3 separate regions of the Homo sapiens genome follow, and all the other regions are linked to region 2. Evidence: fine-mapped expression QTL. A gene starts in region 2. Each other region holds a variant in brackets. All regions are shown on one strand. Distances are from middle to middle.

Evidence for each region.
Region 1: its variant is fine-mapped to the expression of TLR6 in whole blood (INTERVAL, PIP above 0.99).
Region 3: its variant is fine-mapped to the expression of TLR6 in whole blood (INTERVAL, PIP 0.98).

The regions. Positions count from the first base shown.
Region 1 is chr4:38,796,341-38,806,891 of GRCh38, reverse strand. TLR1 (toll like receptor 1) reads left to right here and starts at 2,101. Exons shown (of 4, transcript NM_003263.4): 1 at 2,101-2,138; 2 at 2,510-2,586; 3 at 5,944-6,035; 4 at 7,994-10,551. The coding sequence starts at 8,061. The coding sequence ends at 10,421. RefSeq lists enhancers at 1,101-1,270, 2,229-2,398, 2,333-2,502, 2,410-2,579, 3,970-4,264 and 2 more. The variant T/G (reference allele first, on the strand shown) is at 5,258.
Region 2 is chr4:38,851,922-38,862,472 of GRCh38, reverse strand. TLR6 (toll like receptor 6) reads left to right here and starts at 5,656. Exons shown (of 2, transcript NM_006068.5): 1 at 5,656-5,712. RefSeq lists an enhancer at 4,008-5,207.
Region 3 is chr4:38,824,620-38,834,900 of GRCh38, reverse strand. TLR6 (toll like receptor 6) reads left to right here. Exons shown (of 2, transcript NM_006068.5): 2 at 5,364-10,281. The coding sequence starts at 5,428. The coding sequence ends at 7,818. Among named protein-coding and RNA genes, the nearest start is that of TLR1, 25 kb to the right of the region's middle. RefSeq lists an enhancer at 3,265-3,434. The variant C/T (reference allele first, on the strand shown) is at 7,694.

The DNA of each region.
Region 1 (10,551 bases), 56 kb after region 2:
CTCGGCATCAGAGGGAGACCGTGGAGGTAGAGGTAGAGGTAGGGGTAGGGGTAGGGGTAGGGGTAGGGGTAGGGGTAGAGGTAGGTAGAGGTAGAGGTGTAGAGGTAGAGGGGAAGTGTGTGTTTGTTGATTGATGGGTGTACATGATTACAAGTGTGTGTTTGTTCTGTGGTGACCCACTGGACAGCAGGGGGAAAAAGAGGCAGGTAGGTGCCTCCGAATTAGACACTTTATTTTATTTATTTATTTATTTATTTATTTATTTATTTATTTATTTATTTTTTGAGATAGAGTCTTGCTCTGTCACCCAGGCTAGAGTGCAGTGGTGTGATCTTGGCTCACTGCAACCTCCGCCTCTTGGGTTCAGGCGATTCTCCTGCCTCAGCCTCCTAAGTAGCTGAGATCACAGGCATGTGCCACCACGTCCGGCTAATTTTTTTTATTTTTAGTAGAGACGGGGTTTCGCCTTCTCTACTAGGCTGGTCTCAAACTCCTGACCTCAGGTGATCTGCCTGCCTCAGCCTCCCAAAGTGTTGGGATTGTAGGCATGAGCTACCATGCCCGGCCTGAATTATACACTTTAAACGGGTGTATTTTTTATCGTTTGTGAAATTTTTTATGGAAGGTGAAATTTTTTATGGTTTGTGAATTATATATCAATAAGGTTTTGTTAAAAAAAAACACAACTAACTACAGATTACATCTAATTGACAGCATATTTTTACTGCCCTGAATCCAAAAAGAAATGCCCAGGTATGGGCTAGGGGTGGGCAGAGACACACACACTTGTAATCATGTACACAACTGGGAGTAGTGGGGATGAGTCTGTGGGGAAAAACAGGAATTCAGAGTGCTGAGAAGCTTCCCTTACTGCCCTGCCCACTTCCCTCCCCTGGGCATTGCTCCCTCAGCCTGGATTCACAAAGTCAATGCCTTTGGGAGCCAGGAACTAAATTCTTAGTCAAAGACACCTCCCTCCTGTCCAGTTATGGGTCTCAGGGAGGAAATGGCAGGTGGGTGGTTTCATTCTTTCAGTTTCAGAAAATATCTGTAGACATAACATATTTCCTCTATTAAACAAATTCTGAGGTAAGGGGAAACAGAGAGAGACAGTCAGAACATTATAAGTCGAAAAGAATCTCAGCATTCTTAGTTTAGGGAAGTTGGCCTTGCTCGCTGTGTGGTAGAAAAGCTGATTACGGGAGAGAACCGTGGAGGGAAGGAAGGGAGGCAGTTTTGTCATCCCCACATCCGGTTTTGACTGGACACCATGCAGGCTGAGATCAACTTCAGAGGCAGTCAGCTGGAATCCCATAGCTTTATTTGCCCATTTATTGTGTTGTTATTTTGTTGTTGTCATTACTGGAAAAGGCAAGAGTAGAGCTATCAGAATGTCTTCCTTGAACATGCTGTCAACAAACCCCAGGATTTTTATAAACCCTATGTGAAAAACACGCTAAGAATCTCTTTTCTTCTTAGCATATTTTTCACTTAGGGTTTACAAAAATATGTTTTGAAGAAAGCTTGAAAAGATCAGTGGAAAAAAATTCAGCACCAAATTTTCTCTGAAAATCAACTTGTCAAAAAAGACGTGATTAACATCCATCCTGTAACCAGCACATGAATGATCTTCCCTCTTTACGAGTGTGCTTCAGCAAAACTTTAATCTCGACCCCTCCCTCTTTCCACTTTTAATAGTGGATGGATGAAAAGGCAAGAGGAAAAACAAAGCAGCCGAAACACACCCAGACGCACACTTCTGCCAAGCATAGCCACCACGGTAAGCATTTTGAATTCAGCCAATTATGATCTGTGGATTATTAACATTACCTCATTTACTTCATCAGTGTAGACAATAGTAAACTGACTGTAGTGAAATTTGGAACCATAGAAACGTGATTCTATTTTAATACAGGCCTATCAGGTAACCCACAGACTATGCTACATATGAATAAGAGAAAATAAGTTTATTCTTAACTATGTAATGTAATTCCAGTGGAATTCGGTAGGTGGCATAAAACAGCCTTTTTGTTTTGTTTTGTTTTCAACACCAAATGTGGTTAACAGTGAAATAAATTCAAGGAAGTGCTTGAATTTCTTACAGACTGCCAAATGGAACAGACAAGCAGGTTGTCTTGGTAAGCAACACATTCTTTTCTTTTGTAAAAGAAAATAATTGTATAGCTAGTTATTAAGTACAGAAGTCTCAAAAATCTGTGTAAGTCCTGGGTGTTTTTCTAAGTGGGTTATATTTCTGATATGTATATAGTTACTGTGTAGTTTGTACTGGCATTTGTGTATCAGTTCTGAGTCCTAAATCAGAGAAAGTCCCCACACTCCTCTGGGAATAACACCTCGTGTGTGATTTGCTTATAGGAAATATTTTTGAGTTGGGAAATGAATATTTGGGTCACACACGTCTTCTGGTTTTCTTCCAGAGCAGCTGCTAGTTGTTGATTTTGACAGCATTTCTCTTCACCTAATCCCGCCATTTGTATTCTCTTCTCAGTGTTAAAGAAAATGAGATATAAGTCAGTTACTCCCGGAGGCAATGCTGCTGTTCAGCTCTTCTGTTTTTGTGGCCAGGTTTGTTTCAGTTTTTCTCTCTGGGGCCTTCCCACTAGCTAGTCCTTCTGTTTCTCAGGCCACTAACACTGTTCTGGGGAGCTAGACGTGAGGTAGAATTGCAGGTTTTGAAAATGTTTCCCAGGCTACATCCAATTTGGTCAAAAGACTTGAAAGTGAATTTGTTTTATAACAAAGCAAGAGTTCACAAAACCGCATAGAAAGCAAAGCAGAACAGTTCTTGAACTGTCTCAGATTCTTTTAACCTTTGGTTAATAGCTATTTGGTCTTGTGCAGAGAAGGCCCTTAGTAAATATTTACAGGACTAAACTTAATGGGCCAGATAGATTGTATGGGTATTGTCCATTAAGACCAGTCAAAGCCTTGATTTGATGCCTCCAAAGTCTCCAAAAGAAGACAAATTAAATGTATTGATTCATTGTATCATATAATGTGAGGCTAAACCTATCATAATAATGAAAATTCACAGAAGCTCACCTAGAGGCATTTTACACTTTCAAATTAAAGCATCCTTTTCTGCTCAGCTTATTTTTTGGATAGTAAAAGAGTTTAAAGGTTCTAAAATAGATGAGGCTCAGTCATGGTCATTAAGACGTTGATCAAAAAATTCTTTGGTCTAGGAAACTGAGACATTGATTTTCATGGATTTAGCAAGTTTGGTATATAAAATTCAAAGATCCTGGAAGTATTAAAAATCAGTTATTCCTGTGTATAACATTTTGATTTCTTAATTATAGAAATAAGAATGGTTTCATAAACTGAGTACTTAAAATTAATGACTTTAAATGAAAGGGCAAGATGGAGGTTAGGCAAATAGAAGATATTTGAGTCAATTAATTTAGCTCGACATAAAACTGAAGCTATGCTTTCATTAAATGCTTGCGTTAGCAGTGGTGAATCCATATGGGTCGTAGAAACTTAATTCTTGCCTCCTCAGTGGAAAGAATTTGTGTGAGGGGCATAAGGCAGAGTGAGAGACCGAGGCAAGTTTTAGAGTAAGAGAGAGAGTGTCACGCCCAGGGCCAGGTTCCAGCCCATACTGAGGTCTGAGGGGAGGGGGTGGATGAGCAGATAGCTGAAAGAACACTCAGGGGGCCGTAGGCAGGTGAAAGGTGATTTTATTCAGCAACAGCTCTCATTAGCAGCTTACTTACAGTAGTTCTCTCAGACTGTCCGCCTTGTCCTGGCTGCTTAGTTCGGCAGCTTCCACACACAACTGTGCGTCCGGCTCTCCCTTGCCCTCAGGGTCAGCAGCTTAACTCTTTCTCTCTCTGGGTACAAGCAAGCCGAGCTGTGTCCTGGCTCCCCTCAGTCCATCTGCAAAGATGGACAGCTTTGGCTCTCTCTCTCTCTCTTTCTCTGGCTGCCAATGCACCTGTACAGCGTCAGCAGGGCAATTATACCATTTACGGACAATAGTGGCTTAGAGCCAAGGGATGAACCTTCCCTATGTTATGGCTATGGTAAGCTTCTCTATGTTATGTCTACATGGCTATGATAAAAAGTGAGTTATACGCCTGCGCTCTAAACTCGCTGAGTCACTCTGGATGTTTACCTTGGCCTATCCTTGACCAAAGCACAGCCATATTCCTTACAGAGAGTTTATTAAGAAGTTTTAGATCAGGAACGAAAGGAAATAAAGTACACTTGGAGGAGGGCCAAGTGGGCAACTTGAGAGATCCAAGTGCCCAGTTTAACCTATTACTTGGGGCTTATTTGTTGGCAGGCTTCTGGAGTCTTGCGTCTCTTCTCCCCTGATTCTTCCCTTGGGGTGGGCTGTCTGCATGTGCAGTGGCCTGCCAGCCCTTGGGATGGGCTGCACACACACTGTGTTTACTGAAGTTGTGTACATGCTCATTGGAGACATTTTTCCCTTGCCAGACAAGTCTTCCTAGAGGAAGGTCACATACCCGTTGAAGTCCGCCATTTTGCCTCTTGGTATGCATGCTCAAGCCTGCTTGCCCAGCTCCTGAGAGTTTGTCAGGAGTCTGCTAACCACCAGCTTCAGGTGTGTTTTCTATCTATTAGGAGACTGACTTTCCCTGATGCTGGCTGCAAACAATTATTATTCTAGAGAGACTGTTTTTTTGTTTTTGTTTGTTTGTTTTTGAGACAGAGTCTAGCCCTGTTGCCCAGGCTGGAGTGCAATGGCATGATCTTGGCTCACTGCAACCTCTGCCTCCTGGGTTCAAGCAATTCTCCTGCCTCAGCTTCCCCAGTAGCTGGGATTACAGGCACCTGCCATCACGCCCGGCTAATTTTTGTATTTTTAGTAGAGACAGGGTTTCACCATGCTGGCCAGACTAGTCTCAAACTCCCGACCTCAAGTGATCCACCTATCTCAGCCTCCCGAAGTGCTGGAATTACAGGCGTGAGCCATGGCCCCCGGCTTAGAGAGACTGTTTAACAACTGCCTGATCATCACCTGATGGTCACCTGATATTCCTGGTTGGGGGGCCCCTCTCCTGTCCTGCTCATGTCTGCCTAAGTACCTACTCTAACACTTGGGGGCAGGCAGTTATATAAATTTATATATTTTTGTGATGATAGCTGTTGTTAAGGGAAAAAGGACAACTTTCATCTTGCGTGTGGTAGGTTCTGCGAGCCAAGCTCTCGCACTCATGCACGGGGTCCTGTGTGCCTCTGATCACTTTTGAATACCACGCCTGAC[T/G]GTGCTGATCACTGCTTCCATGAACTCTGGAGTTGGCTAGGAGGTGGAAAGAGCCTTGATCTGGATTCAGGCATAGGAATAAGCAGGGAACCCCACTTAGGCCTTAAGACCAGGCCACTTTTGCTTCGACCTAGCTTGGCACTGCCCCAGGGTATTATTTTTATTCCCATTATTTTAGTCTGTTTAAATTGCTGTAACAAAGTACCAGAATGGGTGACTTATAAACAACAGACACTTACTTTTCACAGTTCTGGAAGGTAGAAGTCTAAGATCAGGGTGGTAGTGTTGGGTTCTGGCGAAGGCCCTCTTCTGGTTTGCGGATGCCTCCTTCTTGTATTTTCATATGGCAGAATGACAGCCTGAGGCTCTCTGGGGTCTTTTTTATAAAGGTACTAATCTGACTCATAAAGGCTCTATTCTTATGACCTAATTACTTCACAATTTTCTCCTGCTAATACCATCACCTTGGGGGTTAGGATTTCAACATAAGAATTTCACAGGGCACAAACATTCAAGCTATAACATCCATTGAAATATTGCTCCTTGTGTGAGTAGCTCTTTAAGGAAGCTGGAGAGGAAGAATTGGGAAATTTCCGGGTCTTTCAGCCAAATACAGTTAATGTCATAAAAACACCACCTTGACTTTTAACATGAACATTAATGTCTGCATCATCTTCCTTGCTCAGGGTCTTCATGAACACTAATAGGGGTACCAGGCCCTCTTCCTCGTTAGAAGAAATCAGGATAACAAAGGCATATTGGGCACCCCTACAAAAGGGTAAGTCCAAGGAAGGCTCCAAAACCCAGATAAGTTTGCACATCTAAATTGGGGAACTTTTGTAACCGAGGGTTGTTTGTAGCAGCTAAATTATTTAGGTTCTCTGTGCTCATTGAGATATGGGAGGGGATATGTGAAGAGGAATTTGGTGCTTTGCTGATACTAATGCCCTGCTTGTCTAATGGTTCTAGGGGATTTTGAATAAGTTCCTTGTGAGAACTGGGTAGCTGTGTAATCACGGCTGAAAGGGTCTCTGGAGGTGAGGACTGCACACTCTAGAGTTCATCCCAACACAGCTCCCTCTGTTCTCATACGCCACTGGAATGCTGACCACAAAATGGTGTCTTAGCTAGAGCAGTTTGAATACTGGTACAATAGGCATAACCTAGAACAGTGCCTACCACTGCATGGAGAATAAATACATATTTGATGAATGAATGAAAAAAGTATTCTGAATAAGAGAGAGGAGGAAACAACTCCCTTTCTCAAAACCTCCCAGTGTTCTCCACCCTCTCATCATTTTTGGAATAGAATCCCAACTCCTTGCAATGATCAACAAAGCCTGAGTGATCTTGGCCCTAACTCCTCTCATCTTCCCTAACTCCTTACTAACATTGACCTTCCCGTTCCTTCTCAGACAAGCCAAGCTCAATTCCATCTCAGGTCCTTTATACTTGCCTTTTCTTTTGCCAGAAATGCTGTAGGTTACCCAGATCTTCCCATAGGTTACTCATTCACTTCATTTTGATTTCTACTCTAGTGTCATCATCTCAAAAAGGCCTTCTCTAACTAATCACTCAAAAATAGCCACCCCCAAGCACTGTCTCATACCTACAATTTACCCTGCTTTATTTTTCTCTACAGAACTTATCACTACAGGAACTTGAGTTTAGTCATTCATTTATTTTCTGTCTCCCCACTAGATAAAAACTCCTTGAGAATTCGGACTTTATCTTGTTCACTGCTCTATCTCCAGTTCTTAAAACATGGCCAGTAGGTGATCAATAAATACTGGTTGAATAAATAAATGGATGAATAAATGGATCTTCTGAGAGGCCTTTTATCAGGATCTAATTACCTTTTGAGTAAGACCAAAGTTAGACCCAAACCGTGTATAGGTCATAAAGGGTAATAGAAGAGCAGTCCCAATACCACCATTAGGAACACCTCTTGAGAAAGTCATGGGGAGATGTACGTCAAAGAGTGAAAGTACACCAGTTGAGTCTTAGCTGGAGTTCTAAATAATTTTGGGAAGCTTGGGGCCAGAAAACTTTCTATGAACCCACCTGTATTAGTTTCCTGAGGCTGCTGTAACAGATGATCATAAACGTGGTGGCTTTGCCCTCAACGTTCTGGAGAGCAGAAGTCGAAACTCAAGGTGTCAGCAGGGCCACCATCACTCCAGAGCCTCCTCTAGCTTCTGGCGCCTGTTGATGTTCCTTGCCTTGTAGCTGCTGCACTCCAGTCTCTGCCTCCACTGTCACAAGGCCTTCTCCTCTGTGTCTCAATTGCCTCTTCTCTTGTCTCTTTGTCAAATATCCCTCTGCCTTTCTCTTAAAAAAGCACTTGTCATTGGATTTATGGACCACCTGGATAATTTGGGATGATCTCCTCATCTCAAGATCCTTAACTTTATTATCTCTGCAAAGACCCCTTTTCTAAGGAAGGTAACATTCATGGTTTCTGGGGATTAGGACATGGTTAAGATGTAGACATATCTTTTGGTGAGCCACCATTCAACCTATTACACCATCCATATTAAAACTTATTTGATTAGAGCTGGCATCATTATTTACCAATATATATACTTCTCTAGTTTTAGGCCATGTAACCCAAAAGAATGTAGCCTCCACTTTATAAGTCTGTAACAAAAAAAAGTTTAATGTCAGCCATGACTAATTTCGTGTATTTTAAAAATGTATGTAATGTATTTCATCATTTCATTATTTTTTTTCTAGAATCTGTATCTGTATCAAGATGATCTGAAGAACAGCTTCTACCTTTAGGAATGTCTAGTGTTCCAAAATGACTAGCATCTTCCATTTTGCCATTATCTTCATGTTAATACTTCAGATCAGAATACAATTATCTGAAGAAAGTGAATTTTTAGTTGATAGGTCAAAAAACGGTCTCATCCACGTTCCTAAAGACCTATCCCAGAAAACAACAATCTTAAATATATCGCAAAATTATATATCTGAGCTTTGGACTTCTGACATCTTATCACTGTCAAAACTGAGGATTTTGATAATTTCTCATAATAGAATCCAGTATCTTGATATCAGTGTTTTCAAATTCAACCAGGAATTGGAATACTTGGATTTGTCCCACAACAAGTTGGTGAAGATTTCTTGCCACCCTACTGTGAACCTCAAGCACTTGGACCTGTCATTTAATGCATTTGATGCCCTGCCTATATGCAAAGAGTTTGGCAATATGTCTCAACTAAAATTTCTGGGGTTGAGCACCACACACTTAGAAAAATCTAGTGTGCTGCCAATTGCTCATTTGAATATCAGCAAGGTCTTGCTGGTCTTAGGAGAGACTTATGGGGAAAAAGAAGACCCTGAGGGCCTTCAAGACTTTAACACTGAGAGTCTGCACATTGTGTTCCCCACAAACAAAGAATTCCATTTTATTTTGGATGTGTCAGTCAAGACTGTAGCAAATCTGGAACTATCTAATATCAAATGTGTGCTAGAAGATAACAAATGTTCTTACTTCCTAAGTATTCTGGCGAAACTTCAAACAAATCCAAAGTTATCAAATCTTACCTTAAACAACATTGAAACAACTTGGAATTCTTTCATTAGGATCCTCCAGCTGGTTTGGCATACAACTGTATGGTATTTCTCAATTTCAAACGTGAAGCTACAGGGTCAGCTGGACTTCAGAGATTTTGATTATTCTGGCACTTCCTTGAAGGCCTTGTCTATACACCAAGTTGTCAGCGATGTGTTCGGTTTTCCGCAAAGTTATATCTATGAAATCTTTTCGAATATGAACATCAAAAATTTCACAGTGTCTGGTACACGCATGGTCCACATGCTTTGCCCATCCAAAATTAGCCCGTTCCTGCATTTGGATTTTTCCAATAATCTCTTAACAGACACGGTTTTTGAAAATTGTGGGCACCTTACTGAGTTGGAGACACTTATTTTACAAATGAATCAATTAAAAGAACTTTCAAAAATAGCTGAAATGACTACACAGATGAAGTCTCTGCAACAATTGGATATTAGCCAGAATTCTGTAAGCTATGATGAAAAGAAAGGAGACTGTTCTTGGACTAAAAGTTTATTAAGTTTAAATATGTCTTCAAATATACTTACTGACACTATTTTCAGATGTTTACCTCCCAGGATCAAGGTACTTGATCTTCACAGCAATAAAATAAAGAGCATTCCTAAACAAGTCGTAAAACTGGAAGCTTTGCAAGAACTCAATGTTGCTTTCAATTCTTTAACTGACCTTCCTGGATGTGGCAGCTTTAGCAGCCTTTCTGTATTGATCATTGATCACAATTCAGTTTCCCACCCATCGGCTGATTTCTTCCAGAGCTGCCAGAAGATGAGGTCAATAAAAGCAGGGGACAATCCATTCCAATGTACCTGTGAGCTAGGAGAATTTGTCAAAAATATAGACCAAGTATCAAGTGAAGTGTTAGAGGGCTGGCCTGATTCTTATAAGTGTGACTACCCGGAAAGTTATAGAGGAACCCTACTAAAGGACTTTCACATGTCTGAATTATCCTGCAACATAACTCTGCTGATCGTCACCATCGTTGCCACCATGCTGGTGTTGGCTGTGACTGTGACCTCCCTCTGCAGCTACTTGGATCTGCCCTGGTATCTCAGGATGGTGTGCCAGTGGACCCAGACCCGGCGCAGGGCCAGGAACATACCCTTAGAAGAACTCCAAAGAAATCTCCAGTTTCATGCATTTATTTCATATAGTGGGCACGATTCTTTCTGGGTGAAGAATGAATTATTGCCAAACCTAGAGAAAGAAGGTATGCAGATTTGCCTTCATGAGAGAAACTTTGTTCCTGGCAAGAGCATTGTGGAAAATATCATCACCTGCATTGAGAAGAGTTACAAGTCCATCTTTGTTTTGTCTCCCAACTTTGTCCAGAGTGAATGGTGCCATTATGAACTCTACTTTGCCCATCACAATCTCTTTCATGAAGGATCTAATAGCTTAATCCTGATCTTGCTGGAACCCATTCCGCAGTACTCCATTCCTAGCAGTTATCACAAGCTCAAAAGTCTCATGGCCAGGAGGACTTATTTGGAATGGCCCAAGGAAAAGAGCAAACGTGGCCTTTTTTGGGCTAACTTAAGGGCAGCCATTAATATTAAGCTGACAGAGCAAGCAAAGAAATAGATTACACATCAAGTGAAAAATATTCCTCCTGTTGATATTGCTGCTTTTGGAAGTTCCAACAATGACTTTATTTTGCATCAGCATAGATGTAAACACAATTGTGAGTGTATGATGTAGGTAAAAATATATA
Region 2 (10,551 bases):
CCCGTCTGTACTAAAAATACAAAAATTAGCGGAGAGTGATGGCACACACCTGTAATCCAGGCTACTCAGAAGGCTGAGGCAAGAAAATCCCTTGAACCTGGGAGGTGAAGGTTGCAGTGAGCCAAAGATCATGCCACTGCACTCCAGCCAGGGTGATGGGAGTGAAACCTTATCTAAAATAAAAAAAAATGTGATTGGAATAATACATCAGAGCAGAAAAATGTTGATACAGTAGAGAGAAGATCATTGCAAGAGTGACTTCCTTGAGTAGATGAGCAGGAAGGGGACCCAGTGCTCAGTGGGAAGGGGCTGGCTCTTGGCACAGAGAGTTCATTCCGAAGGACAGCAAGAGTTCAGGTAGAACTCATGCAGGGGAGGCTTATAGAATTTCAGGGGAAGATGTGGAAATGCTCCTCTGGTAGCATCTATTTTCATTGTGAAAATGAAGCATCATCGCGTGAGAATGTTGGTTTTCAACAAGAATGTTTTAGCAACTATTTAGTAGGCTGTTGAATGTGAGAGTCTGGAGTTCAGGGAAGTCTGGCCTGGAGCTGGTAATTGAGGAGACATCAGCAAGCAGATAGTTTTGAAGCCACGGACCCAGATGACAATGCATGGATTTAGAAAAGAAGTGGTCCAAATCTGAGCCTTGGGTAATCCATGCCAGAGAGATAAAGAGGACCTAGACACGAGAAGGAGATTTTGGAAGTGAAAGAGACAAGAGGAGGTGTGAAAGAGGAGAACAGGAGAGTGAAGGGGCTAGGGAAGGGTAGTAAGGAGGGTAGGAGGATGGCTGCTCTCTTGAGGCTGGGATCTAGTCATACATTTCAAGTAAGCCAGTCAGCATGGGTGTGTATTTTCTCCAACTATATTCAGCCACTCAAGCTCAGTGTAGTCCAGTGGAGAGCTGGATTTAAACTGGGTTGAGGAAAGAGGAGTAAGTAGCTGCAGAAGAATAATGAAGAGGATGGAGCATGATCTTTCAGTCCAGTGCAGTGGGGCTGGGGAATCGTTGGCACTGGAGGAAGAGTTGGAGGTGAGAGAAGGAAAGTGGGATTCAGGCAACTGAGATTATGGAGGGGGTGCAGCCATTGCTAATAATGATATCTAGGATATAATAAGGGAATGCATGACTGAGGTAGGGTGCAGGACAAGATTATTAGAAGAGAGAATGTCCAAGAACTCAGAGGCCAGGTGAATGGAAGAGTCTCTATGTAGCTATGGAAATCACTAGAATTATGAAAGGGGTGGTATCGGATTGAAATAGTGAGTACTGCTAGAATACTTGATGAAGTGATGGGGCTCACTAGATGACTGCAATGAGAAGGGGTGGGTTTGGAGGAAGGAAAGTGATCTGGAAGTAGCAGTGAGAGTCAAGAACACCTGCACCACCTCCCAGGCTCTGGTGTGTGAAGGGTGCACCCAAGAAGATATAGACCACTAGAGGGCGCTGTGCTCAGGCCAGCGTGTAGGTCTCAGTCCCCTGATTTTCATGGGGTTACAATGAAATGGACTCACCTGAAGAGCTTTCAAAATAAAACGTATGCCCGGCCCCTCCCAGACCACTTACATCAGCATCTCTGGACATGTATGTGAGCTCCTGTTTCTTCATGTTCTGGCCACCATTTGTATTACTAGATGTTTTAAATTTTGTCCACCTTAGGGGTGTACAATAGTGTCTCCTGGTTGTGTTAATTTGTATTTTCCCATGTTCTAATGAGGATGCATACCTTTCCATGTGTTTGAGCTATTTCTGTTTCCTTTTCTGTTATCCATCTGTTGATCTCCTTTGCTCATTTCCCCGCATTGGGGTTGTTAGTCATTTTAAAATTGATTTGTAGGAAATCTTTATATATTTTGTATATTAACACTTTTGTGATTATACAAGTTGCAGATACCTTCTCCCAGTCTGCGGCTTGTCTTTTTTTTTTTTTTTTAATTCAGCAGAGAAGTTTAGGTTTACTATCAATACTTAATATATAAATTAGCATTTTTTTTTTTGAGACAGAGTCTCGCTCTGTTGCCCAGGCTTGAGTGCAGTGGCACGATCTCAGCTCACAGCAACCTCCGCCTCCTGGGTTCAAGTGATTCTCGTGCCTCAGGCTCCTGAGTAGCTGGGACTACAGGCGCCAGCCACCACATCCAGCTAATTTTTGTATTTTTAGTAGAGACAGGGTTTCACCATGTTGCCCAGGCTGGTTTTGAACTCCTGACCTCAGGTGATCTGCCTGCCTCAGCCTCCCAAAGTGCTGAGATTACAAGTGTGAGCCACTGCGCCCAGCCAAAATTATCAATCTTATCTCTGTCGTATGTGTATCTTATGATATTGATAATTGTCACAAAACTTACTTTAAAGCTGTTGGTAGACACTAATATTTATTTATTTATTTATTTATTATCTGGAGAAAGACAACATTTTTTAACAAGTAAAAGTCATCAAAATAATGTTTTGCCTGTGTCTGTATTGGGACAGTGTATTGGGTGGCCTCAGATTATGTTTATAATACTTAACCCAGTGTGACACTATTTTTTAAAAATTAAGACATATATACATATCTATATATAGTGAAGAATTCAAATAGGACAAAAAGCATAAAATGGTGAAGAGGCCGGGCGGGGTGGCTCAATCCTGTAATTCCAGCACTTTGGGAGGCTGAGGTGGGCGGATTGTTTGAGCCCAGGAATTCCAGACCAGCCTGAGCGACATGGCAAAACCCTGTCTCTGCAAAAAAATATAAAAATTAGCCATGCATGGTGGTGGATGCCTGTGGTCTCAGATCCTTGGGAGGCTGAGGTGGGAGAATCGCCTGAGTGGGGAAAGTCAAGGCTGCAGTGAGCTGTGATCACGCCACTGCACTCCACCCTGGGCAACAGAGCGAGACCCTGTCTCAAAAAAAAAAAAAAAAAGGCCAATAATCTATTTCTCTTAGTTCTTCTGCTCAAAGGTGAACATTTCTTATGTATCTTTTGAGAAAAAAAGATTCATATGCCTCTATCAACATATGTATGTAGACCCTTGTATTAAGTTTCCTGTGGCTACCATGACAAATCACCACAGACTGTGTGGCTTAAAACAACAAAAATTCATTCTCTCAGAGTTCTGGAGGCTAGAAGTTCAAAATCAAGCTGTTCATAGGGTGATGCTCTCTCCAGCCTCTGGTGGCTCCAGACATCCCTTGCATTGTGACTGCAATACCCCAGTCTCTGCCTCTGTTTGCAAATGCTCTGCTTCTCTGTATCTCTCTTCTCTGTGTGTCTTATGAGGACACAGGGTGTCTTCTAAGGCAGCATAGTATGATGCTTAAGTGCATAGGCACTGGGGCCAAACTGCCTGGGTTCGAATCCCACCCCCACCACTGACCAGCAGTGCAAGCTGGAACGATTACCCAGCTGCGCTAAGTGGAGATGACGTGACAGTACTTATCTCACAGCACCTTAATGAGTTAATACTTGGAAAGTAGTCACAGCAATGCCTGGCAAGAAGATAACCTGTGTAAATGGCTAGATTTTATACAATTGATGTCATACTCTTCTTACAGTTCTGCACCTTAATTTTCTTTCTTTCTTTTCTTTCTTTCTTTCTCTCTTTCTTTCTTTCTTTCTTTCTTTCTTTCTTTCTTTCTTTCTTTCTTTCTTTCTTCCTCTCTCTCTCTCTCTCCCTCTCTCTCTCTCTCTCTCTCCCTCTCTCTCTCTCTCCCTCTCTCTCTCTCTCTCCCTCTCTCTCTCTCTCTTTCTTTCTTTCTTTTTTCTTTTGAGCCAGAGTCTCACTCTGTTGCCCAGGCTGAAGTGCAGTGGCACAATCTCAGCTCTCTGCTACCTCTGCCTCCTGGGTTCCAATGATTCTCCTGCTTCAGCCTCCCGAGTAGCTGGGAGTACAGTTGCCTGCCACCATACCCAGCTAATGTTTGTATTTTTAGTAGAGACAGGGTTTCGCCATGTTAGCCAAGCCGGTCTCGAACTCCTGACCTCTGGTGATCTACCCACCTCGGCCTCCCGAAGTGCTGGGATTACAGGCATGAGACATCGTGCCCAGCCTGCACCTTGATTTTCTTCACTTCATAGTATATCCTGAAATCTTTACCCCTCAGCATACAAAAAAACTATATGATTTGCACCAAACTCCTTACTATTATGACTTCTCTTCTGTGTCAGTCACTATTCCAGCCACTTTAAATTCATTATCTTTCCTAAAAGTACTCCCATTTTGTGGATGAATAAATGGAGGTTAAGGGACTTGTCCCAAGCCTCACAGTAAGTGGCCAAGTGGAGGTTCGGCCCAGTACTGTCTGTTTCTTTGTTTGCTTAACTGTCATTGCCATCTTCGCTATTACTTGATTTTTGTGTTTTTGTCATCCCCTTACAGACGTTTCTGAGTTATGACAGCCTCGACAAGAATAGTCTCCTTGTTTCTGAACATTGGTGTTGTGATGCAATCTCCTAATGAGACATGTCAATGTGCCCAGATCTGCAGTGATAGTTGTCTGTTTTCTTAAGACTTTAGTCCACGGTTACTTGAAATTCCCTCAGAGCCACAGCCAGCCCTTTCCCTTGGCTTGTTTCACAAATCTGGTTTTCCAGGGTCACAGATACCTGCTGCTTTCTGGCTGTCTCCTTTTGCCAGTGGAGCAGAGATCCATCCACTCCTTACTGAGCCTCCCCAGGCCTGAGGAGACTTCCTGTTATGTTTGATGAGTAAGGATGAATCACAAGAAGCCAGCCTTTCTCTTCCTCCTGAAAGCAGAAGTGATTCTTACGGAGATGTCCAACTTTGTCATTAGCCAAATTGTAAGGTCTTAACTTGTTGTTGTTTTTTTTTTAATAAAGATGAGATTGTGCCAGACAGTGAGATAAATTATAGAATGATTGTTTCACTCATGCCTTCTGTCCTTTGCAGAACTCAGTTAAGCAAGAAGTCTGGGGAAAAGGGTTTACTGTCCACCAGAAGTCTCTGTTTAACCAGAGACTTCTGGTAATCAGCCTTTGTTGATGTCATTCTGAAATTCTTCTAAATGGTCTTTAGAAAATTGATTTTTAAATTAGTCTTGCAGGATTTCAGTGTTATTTATTATTCCTAAATTAAAATCTAAACCATTTAATAACACCAAATGTTGATCAGAATGTGGGTATGATTGCTCGTACATATGGCTAAATATGTAGTCATAAATATGTATCAACCAGTAAACTTTCCTTAGAAGTTGATTTTTAAAAAAAAACCCAAATTGTGGAACTATACTTATTTTATTTTAAACTATCTCATCCAGCTAAAATAATGCTCAAAATTGCTTGATAAGGGAAACTGCAATTATTCTTGAAATGTTAAATATGGTGATAATAGAAAACAGGCTGTTTAAAATAACTTTCCACTCAGGTGACAAATGTAATAACCAGGCTGCAAACTCTTACAGAGAAATATTACCTTAGAAAAATATTTTTCTTCACATTGAATTGTTTGTAAGTTGCTTCCTCACACGAATTAGAAAATTGGATTACTGGTTTTGTCTGTAGCCCAGAAAAAACTGCTAACTCACCTCCGGACCTTTGAAAGGTAAAAATATACGTAGGAGTAATTCCAGTGTGGGCCAACAGATGGCACCAATCTGTTTCTAAGGTACCGCTTTACTCAACTTTAAGAACTTGTGTTTGTCAAGCATTTTCAATTGTATTTCCGTTCATTTACAAGTTATTTTCTCTTCTTCTGAAAAAGAGATCTTGGTAAGTAGAAAGACTTCTGTGGCTTTTTCACATTATGGCACAGGTGCTTCAAGTAAGCAAGTTTGCTAACCATTCATTATATAGGAAATAGGTAATGTTTCCTTGAAATTTTTGCAAAATGATTTGAAGTGGTTTTTTTTGTAGATGTTGCAAATGTCCTTTGAATTTCACGAGCAGGATGAAGAGCAGCGTCTTTACAGCTGTCTTGAAAAGATAGAAAACAACTAGCGCTTGTGGTGATAATTAAGGAACAAAACTAATGTTATTTATTTCTTCTGATTTGGCCCAGCGAATTTTCTCTTTTCGTCTTTCTCTAGTTTATTGTTTTCAGTAACATTTAACAGTAATTTTTATATACCACTGATATGGCACCTATTTATTATATGTTTTTACAGCAGACGTGTGTTTGATCTCCCTTGTCGTTTGTCACTGTAACAGTTTGCTGGTCTGTGTCTGTCCCTAATTCATAAGCTTTTTGAAAGCAGGAATTATGTCAGTCCTATTCATATTTATATCCCTGGTGCCTAGTGCGTAGCATGGCACTGGCAGAAAAATAGACTCTGAATAAACATTTATTAAATGGAGGAAGTGGCCGGGACCAAGCCCCTTCACAAGCTTGAATCTGGCACAGTGTAGCAATTGCCTTCCTCCAGGTCCTTCCACCTTCAGTTTGACAAATGAAACAATGTTTTTCTTGCCTATTTGTTAACTTGATTATGTGATCTTTCCTCCACTTATTTCACTTAATTTTTTTTCTGCTCTCTTCTTCCTTGTAGTTTTAATTTTCATAGGTCTTGTCTACCCTTTTTTTCTGAAATGTAGCTTATTTCATCTATTTCCTCACCCTTTTTATTTGATGCATTTAAAAAATCAAGAGCATTTACCTGTTTATTTTTACTTTCTTTAAAAAACTGTGAACTCTCTAATCTTCCACTCTCATCTTCCCATTTTTCCCTCCTTTTTTCCCAATAAATAGAAAAGTTACTATCTTGTTCATTTAGTGTATTCCCTAGGAACTGCCTCAGGGTATGAACGCCTCTGGAGGAATATTGCGTTTTTGTGGCAGGATACCATAAGGACAGCTGACCAGCTTTTCCACCTGGTGACTGATTTTCAGTCCCATGAACCCAGACACCGTGGGTCTGGTTGCCGGGGACCTGTAGGGTAGGTCCTCATCTGTGAATGCCAGTTATCTACTATTATCTGAAAGTTCTCCATCTTTATATTTTAATATTCCAAATAAAACAAGCACGTTTCTTTAAATATAAAATATTTTCACACAGCTATAAAGACAACTCTTAAATTGCCTTACGATAACTTTTTTGGATTATAAAGGACATTCAAAATGAGACATTTTAGGGATATCTGAAAGTATAAGAAAGAAAATTAAATTCATCTATAATTCAGAGATTCAGAGAACCACTATTATTAGTATTTGGTATATTTCATCACATTGTTTGTCCTCTAGCTTTTACGTATATGTCAGGTTTTAATCATATTTTGCAAAATTAGAGTCTTACTACATATATAATTTTTTTTTTTTTTTTTTGAGACGGAGTCTTGCTCTGTCGCCCAGGCTGGAGTGCAGCGGCACGATCTCGGCTCACTGCAAGCTCCGCCTCCCGGGTTCACGCCATTCTCCTGCCTCAGCCTCCCGAGTAGCTGGGACTACAGGCGCCCGCCACCACGCCCGGCTAATTTTTTTGTATTTTTTTTTAGTAGAGACGGGGTTTCACCGTTAGCCAGGATGGTCTCGATCTCCTGACCTCGTGATCCACCCGCCTTGGCCTCCCAAAGTGCTGGGATGAGAGGCGTGAGCCACTGCGCCCGGCCATAATTTTCTATTACTGTATTCATTTAACATTATCATTTTTTCAAAGTACAGTATTTGAGGCTATTATTTAATTATACATAACTGATTTAATCATTTTCTACACTAGACATTCTGATTTTTTCAATATTTCATTATGTCATGAGTATCCTTATAGTCATATCTTCTGTGTGTTATTTTTGACTATTTCTTTAGAAAATTCCTTGTAGTGGAATTGCTAAAATAAAGGAAGGTATATTTTTAAGAAATTTATGTAAATTACCAAATTACCCTTTAGAAAGCTTGTACTAATTTTTCATTCCTGCCTAAGTAGTAAATGAGGGTTCTTATTTTAGTTTCCACCTACCAACCTGGATATTATATTTTTTAATTTTCCCTATTTGATAGGTGAAAAAAAAATCTTGCCTTTTAAAAAATCTTTTAAGAAACAAGAGTCCTCCTTTGACCCCCTTCCTCTTTTTATGCTTAAATATCTTATAGTAAAAATAACAGGCATTCTGGAAACCTATTTCTAAAAGCTTTATTCTCTATCTCTAAAAAAATTACATTTTCCTAAAATAGCCAAATAACATTATAAAAAATTACAATTTATTTCTTAATAGCATCTAATGGCTGGTCCATCATAGAATCTGCCCCTCCTTCTGTTACTGAATATGTTTTATAGCAAGTCTGTCTTAACTGAGATCTAATCCAAGATCATGAGTTTCATCTAGATGTTATGTGCTTTTTTGATTTAACGTGCTGTTTTATTTTTTGTGAGATTGCACATTATTCATATTATTGGCAATTGATTTTTGGCAAATTATTCAGTAAATAGTACAGTAAACTTAATTTTGAATGTTAAAAGTTTGAAAAATATAGATAAAAACTAAGAGGAAAATAAAGTTCCATTATAATCTTACTGTGCAAAGATAATTACTGTTCATATCTTGGTATGTATCTTATTAATTTTTCTACTTGCATAGGTACATATTTACTTTGGTACTTTTTAAATAAACTGCTTTTTGTCACATATAGTGAAAATATTTTCATGCAATTCGATTTTTATTATTTTTAAAGGCTACATAGTACTATTTAATTATACAGAGATACTAAAATTTATTTGATAACCTGCTATTTTTGGATAATTGAGGGATTTGTTTTCAAAATAGAATTTATTTTTGCCAGGAGCAGTGGCTTGTACCTGTAACCCCAGCTCCGTGGGAGGCTGAGGTGAGAGGATGGCATGAGCCCAGGACCTTAAGCTATGATTGTGCCACTGCACTCCAGCCTGGGCAGTGGGACAAAACCCTGTCTCTTAAAAAGAAAGTGTTTAAGAAAATAGTAATGATAATAATTTATTTTGTGACGGCCACTTTATTGTAGTCTTTTATTGGTGCTAACATTTTTTCAATGACTTCTCTTTGGCTTTCCACATTGACAGTCTTATAATCTAAAAATAATAATGATTTTCTTTCTTCATTTCAGTATTTCTTCCTGTCATTTTTTTTCTTTATTACAGTGGTTAAAACTTCCGGAAAGAACAATGTGTGCATTCTTTTTTTTTTATTATTATACTTTAAGTTCTAGGGTACATGTGCACAACATGCAGGTTTGTTATATATGTATACATGTGCCATGTTGGTGTGCTGCACCCATTAACTCGTCATTTACATTACGTATATCTCCTAATGCTTTCCCTCCCCCCTCCCCCCACCCCACGACAGGCCCCAGTGTGTTATGTTCCCTTTCCTGTGTCCAAGAGTTCTCATTGTTCATTTCCCACCTATGAGTGAGAACATGCGGTGTTTGGTTTTTTGTCCTTGCGATAGTTTACGAGAATGATGGTTTCCAGCTTCATCCATGTCCCTACAAAGGACATGAACTCATCCTTTTTTATGGCTGCATAGTATTCCATGGTGTATATGTGCCACATTTTCTTAATCCAGTCTATCATTGATGGACATTTGGGTTGGTTCCAAGTCTTTGCTATTGTGAATAGTGCCACAATAAACATGTGTGTGCATGTATCTTTATAGCAGCATGATTTATAATCCTTTGGGTATATACCCAGTAATGGGATAGCTGGGTCAAATCGTATTTCTAGTTCTAGATCCCTGAGGAATCACCACACTGTCTTCCACAATGGTTGAACTAGTTTACAGTCCCACCAACAGTGTAAAAGTGTTCCTATTTCTCCACGTCCTCTCCAGCACCTGTTGTTTCCTGACTTTTTAATGATCGCCATTCTAACTGGTGTGAGACGGTATCTCATTGTGGTTTTGATTTGCATTTCTCTGATGGCCAGTGATGATGAGCATTTTTTCATGTGTCTTTTGGCTGCATAAATGTCTTCTTTTGAGAAGTGTCTGTTCATATCCTTCGCCCACTTTTTGATGGGGTTGTTTATTTTTTTCTTGTAAATTTGTTTGAGTTCATTGTAGATTCTGGATATTAGCCCTTTGTTGGATGAGTAGATTGCAAAAATTTTCTCCCATTCTGTAGGTTGCCTATTCATTCTGATGGTAGTTTCTTTTGCTGTGCAGAAGCTCTTTAGTTTAATTAGATCCCATTTGTCAATTTTGTCTTTTGTTGCCATTGCTTTTGGTGTTTTAGACTTGAAGTCCTTGCCCATGCCTATGTCCTGAATGGTATTGCCTAGGTTTTCTTCTAGAGTTTTTATGGTTTTAAGTCTAACATTTAAGTCTTTAATCCATCTTGAATTAATGTTTGTATAAGGTGTAAGGAAGGGATCCAGTTTCAGCTTTCTCCATATGGCTAGCCAGTTTTCCCAGCACCATTTATTAAATAGGGAATCCTTTCCCTATTTCTTGTTTTTGTCAGGCTTGTCAAAGATCAGATGGTTGTAGATGTGTGGTATTACTTCTGAGAGCTCTGTTCTGTTCCATTGATCTATATCTCTGTTTTGGTACCAGTACCATGCTGTTTTGGTTACTGTAGCCTTGTAGTATAGTTTGAAATTAGGTAGCATGATGCCTCCAGCTTTGTTCTTTTGGCTTAGGATTGAC
Region 3 (10,281 bases), 27 kb after region 2:
CGTTCTACTCTCTTAAGCATTTCTTGTAGGGCTCGTCTAGTGGTGATGAATTCCCTCAGTTGTCGCTTGTCTGGGAAAGAATATTTCTTCTTCATTATGGAAGGACAGCTTTGATGGGTATAGTCTTCTTGGTTGACAGTTTCTTCTTTCAGCACTTTGAGTATATTATCCCATTCTCTCCTGGCCTATAGTTTCTGCTGAAAAATCTGTTAGTCTGATGGGGAGTCTCTTCTATATGACTTGACTTTTTTTATTTCTTGCTGTTTTTAGGATTCTGTCTTAGTCTTCAACTTTTGAGAGTTTGACTGTGATCTTCCTCAGAGAGAACATTTTTGAATTAAATCTACTTGGGAATTTTTAAGCTTCTTGTATCTGGATGTCTATACCTCTTGTAAGACCTGGAAAGTTTTTAGCTATTATTTCATTAAACATGTTTTCTATCCCTTTGCTCATCTCTTCTGCTTCTGGAACTCCCAAAATGTGAATTTTGTTTGCTTAATGGTGTTCCATAGGCTTTCTTTATTCTTTTTTATTCCTTTTTTTTTTTTTTCGCCTCACTGGGTTATTTCAAAAGACCTGTCTTCCAGTTCAGAAATTCTTTATTTTGCTCAATCTAGTCTACTGTTTTTTAATTTTTAATTTTATATATATATTTTTTTTTTGAGCTGGAGTTTTGCTCTTGTCACCCAGGCTGGAGCATAGTGGTGCAATCTCAGCTCGCTGCAACCTCTGCCTCCTGGGTTCAAGCAATTCTCATGCCTCAGCCTCGCAAGTAGCTGGGATTACAGGTGCCTGCCACCACGCCCAACTAATTTTTGTAATTTTTTTTTTTTTTTAGTACAGATATGGTTTCACCATTTTGGCCAGGCTGGTCTCGAACTCCTGACCTCAGGAGATCCACCCACCTCAGCCTCCCAAAGTGCTGGGATTACAGTTGTGAGCCACTGCACCTGGCCTAGTCTATTGTTTGTACAAGCTCTTGATTATATTTTTTTACTTCATTTATTGACCTCTGTAGTTCCAAAATTTCTGTTTTGTTCTATTTTTAATATCTATTTCTTTGTTGAATTTCTGACTCAGATCATAAATTATTTTTCTGATTTCTTTTATTATTTATCTATGCTCTCTTGTAACTCACTGAGTTTCTTTAGTATCATTATTTTGAATTACTTTTCAGGCATTTTATAGATTTTCTTTTTGTTGAGATCTGTTATTAGAGAATTATTGTGTTCCTTTGGAGGCTTCATGTTTCCTTGCACTTTTGTATTTCTTGTGTCCTTATGTTGATATCTATGGATCTGATGTAATAGCTGCTGCTTCCAATTTTATGGATTGGCTTTGATAGGGAAAGACTTTTGCCTCTAGGTGTTTTTATAGTGTTAGTTGAGTATAGGGTGCTTTGGCTTTGATTCTGAGTGGGCACAGCAGTGTAGTTTCTGTATGATTTCTTCACCTGTCATCAGTGTCAGTGGCATTTGGGTTCCTCAGTGGCTTAGGTTACAGTTGTCAGCAGACACTATGGCAAGGCTTTGCTGGGGATGGGGACACCAGGCAGGCCTGTTCTCAGGCAACAGTGGTGGCAGCAGTGGCCTAGGCTTGCCGGTTCTCAGGCCCCTGTGTGAAATATGTGGGCACTCGTGGTGATGGGTCCTTGAGCCTCCAGGAGATTTAGTTGGATGCTTGCAGTGGCAGTAATGGACCAAGTGGGAGGGCAGGTTCTTGGGCCCCTGCACAATTTGTGTGGCATTAACTGTAGCAGTAGGAAAAGTGGACCAACCCTCTGGCCCCCAAGTGGTAGACACAGGCAGCAGCAGGCTGGGCAAGCCAGTCCTCAGGACCCCGTGTGGCATGCATGTGCCACACCCTGTGTGGCACTGCCCTGCCATGGCAGTGGCAGGCAGGCACTAGCAGCAAAGGGCATGGTGGACCTGTCCTCAGGCCCCTTGGAGGCATGTGTAGATGTGTCGTAGTCCTGCTGCTAGGGAAGATGGGGTTGCTGTAAGTGGCGGTGGCCCTGGGCAGGTAACTCTGAGGCTCTGGGGAATGCACACTTTGACTCCCTTTGTCCCAGGGAAAGCCACTAGGTGCACTGTGCTTCCTGTTTCCTGGGATGCGGGGCATTGCATGGGCTAGAGTGCTGGGGACCTAGCTGCACTGCTGATCTTAGCTGGCATTACAATGCTGTAGCCCTCTAGGTGGACGTAGGAGAATATCAGTGGGGCTTCAGGGGTGTGGAGATTCAGGGTTGTTGGGCCCCAGAACAGGATGTGTATGGTGAGGGCTGGGCTCTTAAAAGAGCCTTATGCTGAAGCTGTTTGGGTCTCAGGGTATGGGGTATGTGGGACCCAATGTGAAGTCCCATTGTGGAACAATGTGATTGCATATATTCCAGACAGCCCCAGGGCATGTGAAGGCCAAGGAGCTAGCTCATGGCTAGGATTACAGGAGTCCATAGTGGAAACATTGACCTCTGAAGATCTCTCAGTTAAACTTTCCCTGGAATGGGAAGTTCCTCCTGGTTCTGAGCTAGTCCCAGCTGGGCTGGCTGCTTCACTTCCCTCTTCTCCCATGCCTCAGAGGTGCACTGTCACTTCTCCGCTGAATTCCAGTGTTCTCTCTTAGATGCTCATTCAATGTGTGATTATCTGCTCACTGTTTTGGTCCTTCTTTGCAGAGGGGGTGAGGGCTAGGTGCCTCTATTCAGCCATTTTAATGCTTCTCCGGCTCATTTTTTAATTGTTCAATAGTATTTTATTGTGTGAATGTACCAGTTTGTTAATATTTTTATCTATTGAGGGATATCTTGTTGCTTCCAATGTTTGACAGTTATGAATAAAGCTTCTATAAACATCCACATGGAGGCTTTTATGTGGACATAAATTTTCAGTTCTTTTGGTTAAATACCCAGGAATGTGATTTGCTGGATTGTGTGATAAGACTATGCTTAGTTTTATAAGAAACTGCATTCCATAGTGGCTGCACCATTTTGCATTCCCACAAACAGTGAAAGAGAGTTCTTGTTGCTCCACATCCTCACCAACATTTGATGTTGTTTTTGGATTTTACCCATTCTCATAAGTGTAATGTAATTTCATTGCTGTATTAATCTGCAAAACCATGATGAAATATGATGTCAAATAGCTATGTATATGTGTATTTGCTCTTTACATATCTTCTTTGGTGAGGTGTCTGTTTAGATTTTTGTGCCCATTTAAAAACTAGGTTGTTTGTTTTCTTATTGTGGAGCTTAAGAGTTCTTTGCATAGTTTGGATACAAGTCCCTATCATATATGGGTTTTGCAAATATCTTCTCTGAGTCTGTGGTTTGTCTTTTTCACTCTCTTGCAGTGTCTTTTGCAAAGCAAAAATTTTAATTTTAATGAAGTCCAACTTAACAGTGTTTTCTTTCTTGGATTATGTTTTTGATGCGTATCTCAAAAGTCATCACCAAATCCAAAGTCACCTAGATTTTCTCCTATGTTATCTTCTGGAAATTTTATAGTTTTGCATTATACATTTAGGTCTATGGTTAATTTTGAGCTGATTTTTGTGAAAACTGTAAGGTCTGCGTCTAAATTCTTTCTCTTCTTCTTCTTTTTTTTTTTTTGCATGTGGAGGTCTAATTGTTCCAGCACCATTTGTTGAAAAGACTATCCATTCTCCACTGAGTTGCCTTTGCTCGTTTGTCAAACAGCAGTTGATTATTTTTTTGTGGGTCTATTTCTAAGCTCTGTATTCTGGTCATTTGACCTATTTGTCTATTCTTTCACCAAAACCACACTGCCTTGATTGCTGTAGCTTTGTAGCAAGTCTCAATGTTAGGTGGTGTCAGTTATCTGGCTTTGTTCTTTTAATTTCTTTTTTTTTTTTTTCCTGTGAATGAACAATACTTTCTGTTTCTTTGCATGGCTAATTTTTTTAAACAAATAAATTAGAGATTCCTTTAATGCCAAGTTACACAATCAAAAAGATAACAATCTCTTTCCATTTGCTTTTTGCAAGGTTTGTGTTATTTCAGGGCAAAACGTAGAGCAAGTCCACTGGCAAATCTGGGGGCTAGTGATTATTTTGTTTTGATTTTTATTTTTTTAAATCAGACATTTTAAACACTACAATGAGGTAACTCTAGAAATCAAATTCTGTCCCCCTTTCCCAGAGGTGTTTTATTTATTTATTTATTTATTTTTTGACAGGGTCTCATTCTGTCACCCAGGCTGGAGTGCAGTGGTGTAATCACAGCTCATTGGAGCCTCGACTTCCTCGGCCCCAAACAATCCTCCCACTCAGCCTCCCAAGTAGCTGGGACTATAGGCACACGCCACCATGCCCAGCTAAGTTTTGTATTTTTTGTAGAGATGGAGTTTCACTATGTTGCGCAGGCTGGCTTTGAACTCCTGGACTCAAGCAATCCACCTGCCTTGCCCTCCCCAAGTTCTGGGACTATAGGCTTAAGCCACTGTGCCGGGCCTCCCTTTCCCAGGGTGTATTGTTGCTTCTTGTGGCTTATAGTTGCTTGTTTAATGACTTTTCTAAATAATTTTTATAAAGATTATTCTTTGTCATGTGTGGCTATTACATTTTCTGTCCAGTTAGCTTAGTGGTCAGCCAGTAACTTGAGATTTCTTTAAACATCTGGAGCAAAAACAAAAACCAAATAAACTAGCAAAAGCAAAAACAAAAACACCCCTGATCTTTGCAGGTTGGCTGTGTTGGATCACTTTCTCAATGCTTAGCCAGTCTATTCACAGCTCTGCTTTAGCCTTCACTTTCTGCATGCATGGAAGCTAAAGATGAGCCAGAGGTGAAGTTTAGGATTTTCTCAGGTCTCCTCTGAACATGCGTCCAGCCTTGGGCACGTGAGTGGACTTCTGGACTCCCTGGTATATACAGAGATTTCCTCAGCCTTTTTTCTCCCACATATCTTTCTCCATATATCTTTGCATATTTCCCAGACTTTTTGATGTGTCTGCTGCTTGCCCCCTCTGTTAGCCCTTGCTCAGGTGGCTGCAGCTAGTATGTTTGCCTTTAATTGTTTACAGCAAACACCAGCCAGAAGGCTGTTCCAGCCCTGAGAAAGTTCTAAGGTGTACAAAACAAAGGCAAGCCCCTGAGTGTGAATCCCTCAGGCAGCAACCAGACAGGTCAAAACACACAACCACAATTCTTTGATAACAAGGCCTATATTGCCCCTTCTGGCATGAGCAAGCTATATAACTGGTTATAAAAAGTATTACATTAAATTATGGGGACAGAAATGACTCTACTAGTGAATGAAGAAATCATTTAGATTTTATGGTTAGTAAGTGGAGGTTTGAGAGTAACCATCCGATCTTTATTAATCTTAGTGTATATTATATTTCTAGAATTTGGACTCATATCAAGATGCTCTGAAGAAGAACAACCCTTTAGGATAGCCACTGCAACATCATGACCAAAGACAAAGAACCTATTGTTAAAAGCTTCCATTTTGTTTGCCTTATGATCATAATAGTTGGAACCAGAATCCAGTTCTCCGACGGAAATGAATTTGCAGTAGACAAGTCAAAAAGAGGTCTTATTCATGTTCCAAAAGACCTACCGCTGAAAACCAAAGTCTTAGATATGTCTCAGAACTACATCGCTGAGCTTCAGGTCTCTGACATGAGCTTTCTATCAGAGTTGACAGTTTTGAGACTTTCCCATAACAGAATCCAGCTACTTGATTTAAGTGTTTTCAAGTTCAACCAGGATTTAGAATATTTGGATTTATCTCATAATCAGTTGCAAAAGATATCCTGCCATCCTATTGTGAGTTTCAGGCATTTAGATCTCTCATTCAATGATTTCAAGGCCCTGCCCATCTGTAAGGAATTTGGCAACTTATCACAACTGAATTTCTTGGGATTGAGTGCTATGAAGCTGCAAAAATTAGATTTGCTGCCAATTGCTCACTTGCATCTAAGTTATATCCTTCTGGATTTAAGAAATTATTATATAAAAGAAAATGAGACAGAAAGTCTACAAATTCTGAATGCAAAAACCCTTCACCTTGTTTTTCACCCAACTAGTTTATTCGCTATCCAAGTGAACATATCAGTTAATACTTTAGGGTGCTTACAACTGACTAATATTAAATTGAATGATGACAACTGTCAAGTTTTCATTAAATTTTTATCAGAACTCACCAGAGGTTCAACCTTACTGAATTTTACCCTCAACCACATAGAAACGACTTGGAAATGCCTGGTCAGAGTCTTTCAATTTCTTTGGCCCAAACCTGTGGAATATCTCAATATTTACAATTTAACAATAATTGAAAGCATTCGTGAAGAAGATTTTACTTATTCTAAAACGACATTGAAAGCATTGACAATAGAACATATCACGAACCAAGTTTTTCTGTTTTCACAGACAGCTTTGTACACCGTGTTTTCTGAGATGAACATTATGATGTTAACCATTTCAGATACACCTTTTATACACATGCTGTGTCCTCATGCACCAAGCACATTCAAGTTTTTGAACTTTACCCAGAACGTTTTCACAGATAGTATTTTTGAAAAATGTTCCACGTTAGTTAAATTGGAGACACTTATCTTACAAAAGAATGGATTAAAAGACCTTTTCAAAGTAGGTCTCATGACGAAGGATATGCCTTCTTTGGAAATACTGGATGTTAGCTGGAATTCTTTGGAATCTGGTAGACATAAAGAAAACTGCACTTGGGTTGAGAGTATAGTGGTGTTAAATTTGTCTTCAAATATGCTTACTGACTCTGTTTTCAGATGTTTACCTCCCAGGATCAAGGTACTTGATCTTCACAGCAATAAAATAAAGAGCGTTCCTAAACAAGTCGTAAAACTGGAAGCTTTGCAAGAACTCAATGTTGCTTTCAATTCTTTAACTGACCTTCCTGGATGTGGCAGCTTTAGCAGCCTTTCTGTATTGATCATTGATCACAATTCAGTTTCCCACCCATCGGCTGATTTCTTCCAGAGCTGCCAGAAGATGAGGTCAATAAAAGCAGGGGACAATCCATTCCAATGTACCTGTGAGCTAAGAGAATTTGTCAAAAATATAGACCAAGTATCAAGTGAAGTGTTAGAGGGCTGGCCTGATTCTTATAAGTGTGACTACCCAGAAAGTTATAGAGGAAGCCCACTAAAGGACTTTCACATGTCTGAATTATCCTGCAACATAACTCTGCTGATCGTCACCATCGGTGCCACCATGCTGGTGTTGGCTGTGACTGTGACCTCCCTCTGCATCTACTTGGATCTGCCCTGGTATCTCAGGATGGTGTGCCAGTGGACCCAGACTCGGCGCAGGGCCAGGAACATACCCTTAGAAGAACTCCAAAGAAACCTCCAGTTTCATGCTTTTATTTCATATAGTGAACATGATTCTGCCTGGGTGAAAAGTGAATTGGTACCTTACCTAGAAAAAGAAGATATACAGATTTGTCTTCATGAGAGAAACTTTGTCCCTGGCAAGAGCATTGTGGAAAATATCATCAACTGCATTGAGAAGAGTTACAAGTCCATCTTTGTTTTGTCTCCCAACTTTGTCCAGAGTGAGTGGTGCCATTACGAACTCTATTTTGCCCATCACAATCTCTTTCATGAAGGATCTAATAACTTAATCCTCATCTTACTGGAACCCATTCCACAGAACAGCATTCCCAACAAGTACCACAAGCTGAAGGCTCTCATGA[C/T]GCAGCGGACTTATTTGCAGTGGCCCAAGGAGAAAAGCAAACGTGGGCTCTTTTGGGCTAACATTAGAGCCGCTTTTAATATGAAATTAACACTAGTCACTGAAAACAATGATGTGAAATCTTAAAAAAATTTAGGAAATTCAACTTAAGAAACCATTATTTACTTGGATGATGGTGAATAGTACAGTCGTAAGTAACTGTCTGGAGGTGCCTCCATTATCCTCATGCCTTCAGGAAAGACTTAACAAAAACAATGTTTCATCTGGGGAACTGAGCTAGGCGGTGAGGTTAGCCTGCCAGTTAGAGACAGCCCAGTCTCTTCTGGTTTAATCATTATGTTTCAAATTGAAACAGTCTCTTTTGAGTAAATGCTCAGTTTTTCAGCTCCTCTCCACTCTGCTTTCCCAAATGGATTCTGTTGTGAGCAAGAGTTTATATGGCTTCATGGCAGCAAGGGAACAGTCAACTTCAGCATCATATGCACCAGTCCTCGGAGTGCCCTGTGAATCATATTGGTCTTTGGGTCAGTGTCATCATTCTCTTCAAGTCTGGGGCTTGGGGAAAAAATTAGATCAGCTACGGCATATAAAAAAGTCTTTTGTTTCACATATGTGTAATAGCTTATTTAATTTTTTATCCTGCTACACAAATATGTAATTAACCAATGAGGACTCATGACTTGATAGTGTATGTATGTAAAGGGATATATGGACTTAATCATAAGCTGTTGAGGTGAAAGACGTGGATCCACCTGCTTTCCAAGAAAACTCGGCCAAATTTATTTGCAGCTGGATATTGAATGGGACTTTTCTGGTTGTCTTAGAATTCTGGCTAAAGGCTCAAAGCTGACGAAAGACAGTAACTGCACCAACATGATACTAGACACAGCCAGTCTGGACTTATCAAAAGAGCAGAAAGAGACCAATGACTCCCAGTCCGTATTATCCATCTCTAGAAGACTAGAGTCAAAAGCGTGATTAAAGAGTCATTAAGCGGAGGTTCTAGGCCATAGGGAGATTGCTTTGAATTTCTTGCAGACAAGTGTGAGGGACTCAGCATGGTAGAAGGTAGCCTGGCATCCCACTCCAAGACTGAAAGCTTGCAGAGTAACAGGAGCACACAGGTTCAGTGCAGCAGATGTGGTGTGGCTTGAGAATTCTTGGAAGAGCTTGATGAGTGTTTGCTGGAGTCCGAGGGTGGGCACTGGGAACACAGAGACTGGTAAATAGTGTTTGGCAAATACAAGTGCTTGATGAATATTTGTTGAATGAATAGATGAGTTCTTCCCCCCTGGGGAATTCAGGAGGTGAAAGGTTGGCTTGAGCACCCAAAATGGCAGGATGAGAGAAGAGAAGCACTGATAGCAACCTGCCCTCCCATTATTGACATGGTAAAAGGATGTGAATTTCTTCACATGGCTTTGACTATGGAAGAGTAGCTGGGCTTGCATTGTCATGACGGGATATCAGCCAACAGGGTAGCCTGTTGTGCAAAGAAACTATAGCAGTAAGAGGACACGGGGTTAGGCAGAAGAGGGGTTTGGGGTGGAGGTTGCTGCAAGAGGTCAGCCAGATAATGTGGCCCTGCATCATGGAACTGTGCAATGTGGGGTACACTCAAGGCCCTCCAATAACTCACAGATGTGCCCTATGAAAAAGCCAGCATTTGGACTCTGCCATAGCAGCTGGCAGGATCATGCTGGCCTGTCTGCCTTATTCAATAGTTAACTACAGGAAGATCTGCTCCTCTTTGTGTAATACCCTCTTCCCTTGCAATGGCATAGGGACATCTAGAATATAGAGAAGACAGAGACAATGGAGGAAGAGTAAAGAAACTGACTATATGCCTTCGTCATTTCACTGCAAGGAAGGCCAAGCAGATTTTTGAATGAGGTGTGAGATTGCTGTTAAATTGGACTGGCCTGGACATTTTAATCCCTTAAATAGAGGTGCAATGACTAAAGTGAGATTTGTCACTAAAATTTATGGTATCTGCCCAAGATTCAGGAGTGATGATGGGAGGAGATCCAACAGAACTTTGTTGTAAGGCAATGGTTAGAGAAAAATGAAGCCCTCGCTTTCTGGACTTAGTTCATTCAATAAACCAGTTTCGGCCAGGCACGTTGGCTCACATCTATAATCCCAGTACTGTGGGAGGCTGAGGCAGGTGGATCACTTGAGGTCAGGAGTTCGAGACCAGCCTGGCCAACATGGTGAAACCCTGTCTGTACTAAAAATACAAAAATTAGCCGGGTGTGGTGGTGTGCACCTGTAGTCCCAGCTACTCGGGAGGCTGAGGCAGGAAAATCACTTGAACCTGGGAGACAGAGGCTGTAGTGAGCTGAGACAGCGCTACTGTACTCCCCGCTGGGCAACAGAGTGAGACTCCATCTCAAAAAAGTTAAAAGAAAAAAAATCTGGTTTCATAATAGCTGTAACGAAATAAGCCTTAATGATATTTTATTAGCATCATCTTCTGTCTGCATTAGCCCTTCCTTGCTCTTCAGGAGAACAACATTTGTTTTCCTCCCTAGGCTCTATCCCAAACGGCACATTCTTCCACAACCCCTGTTGAACAGATTTTTTAAA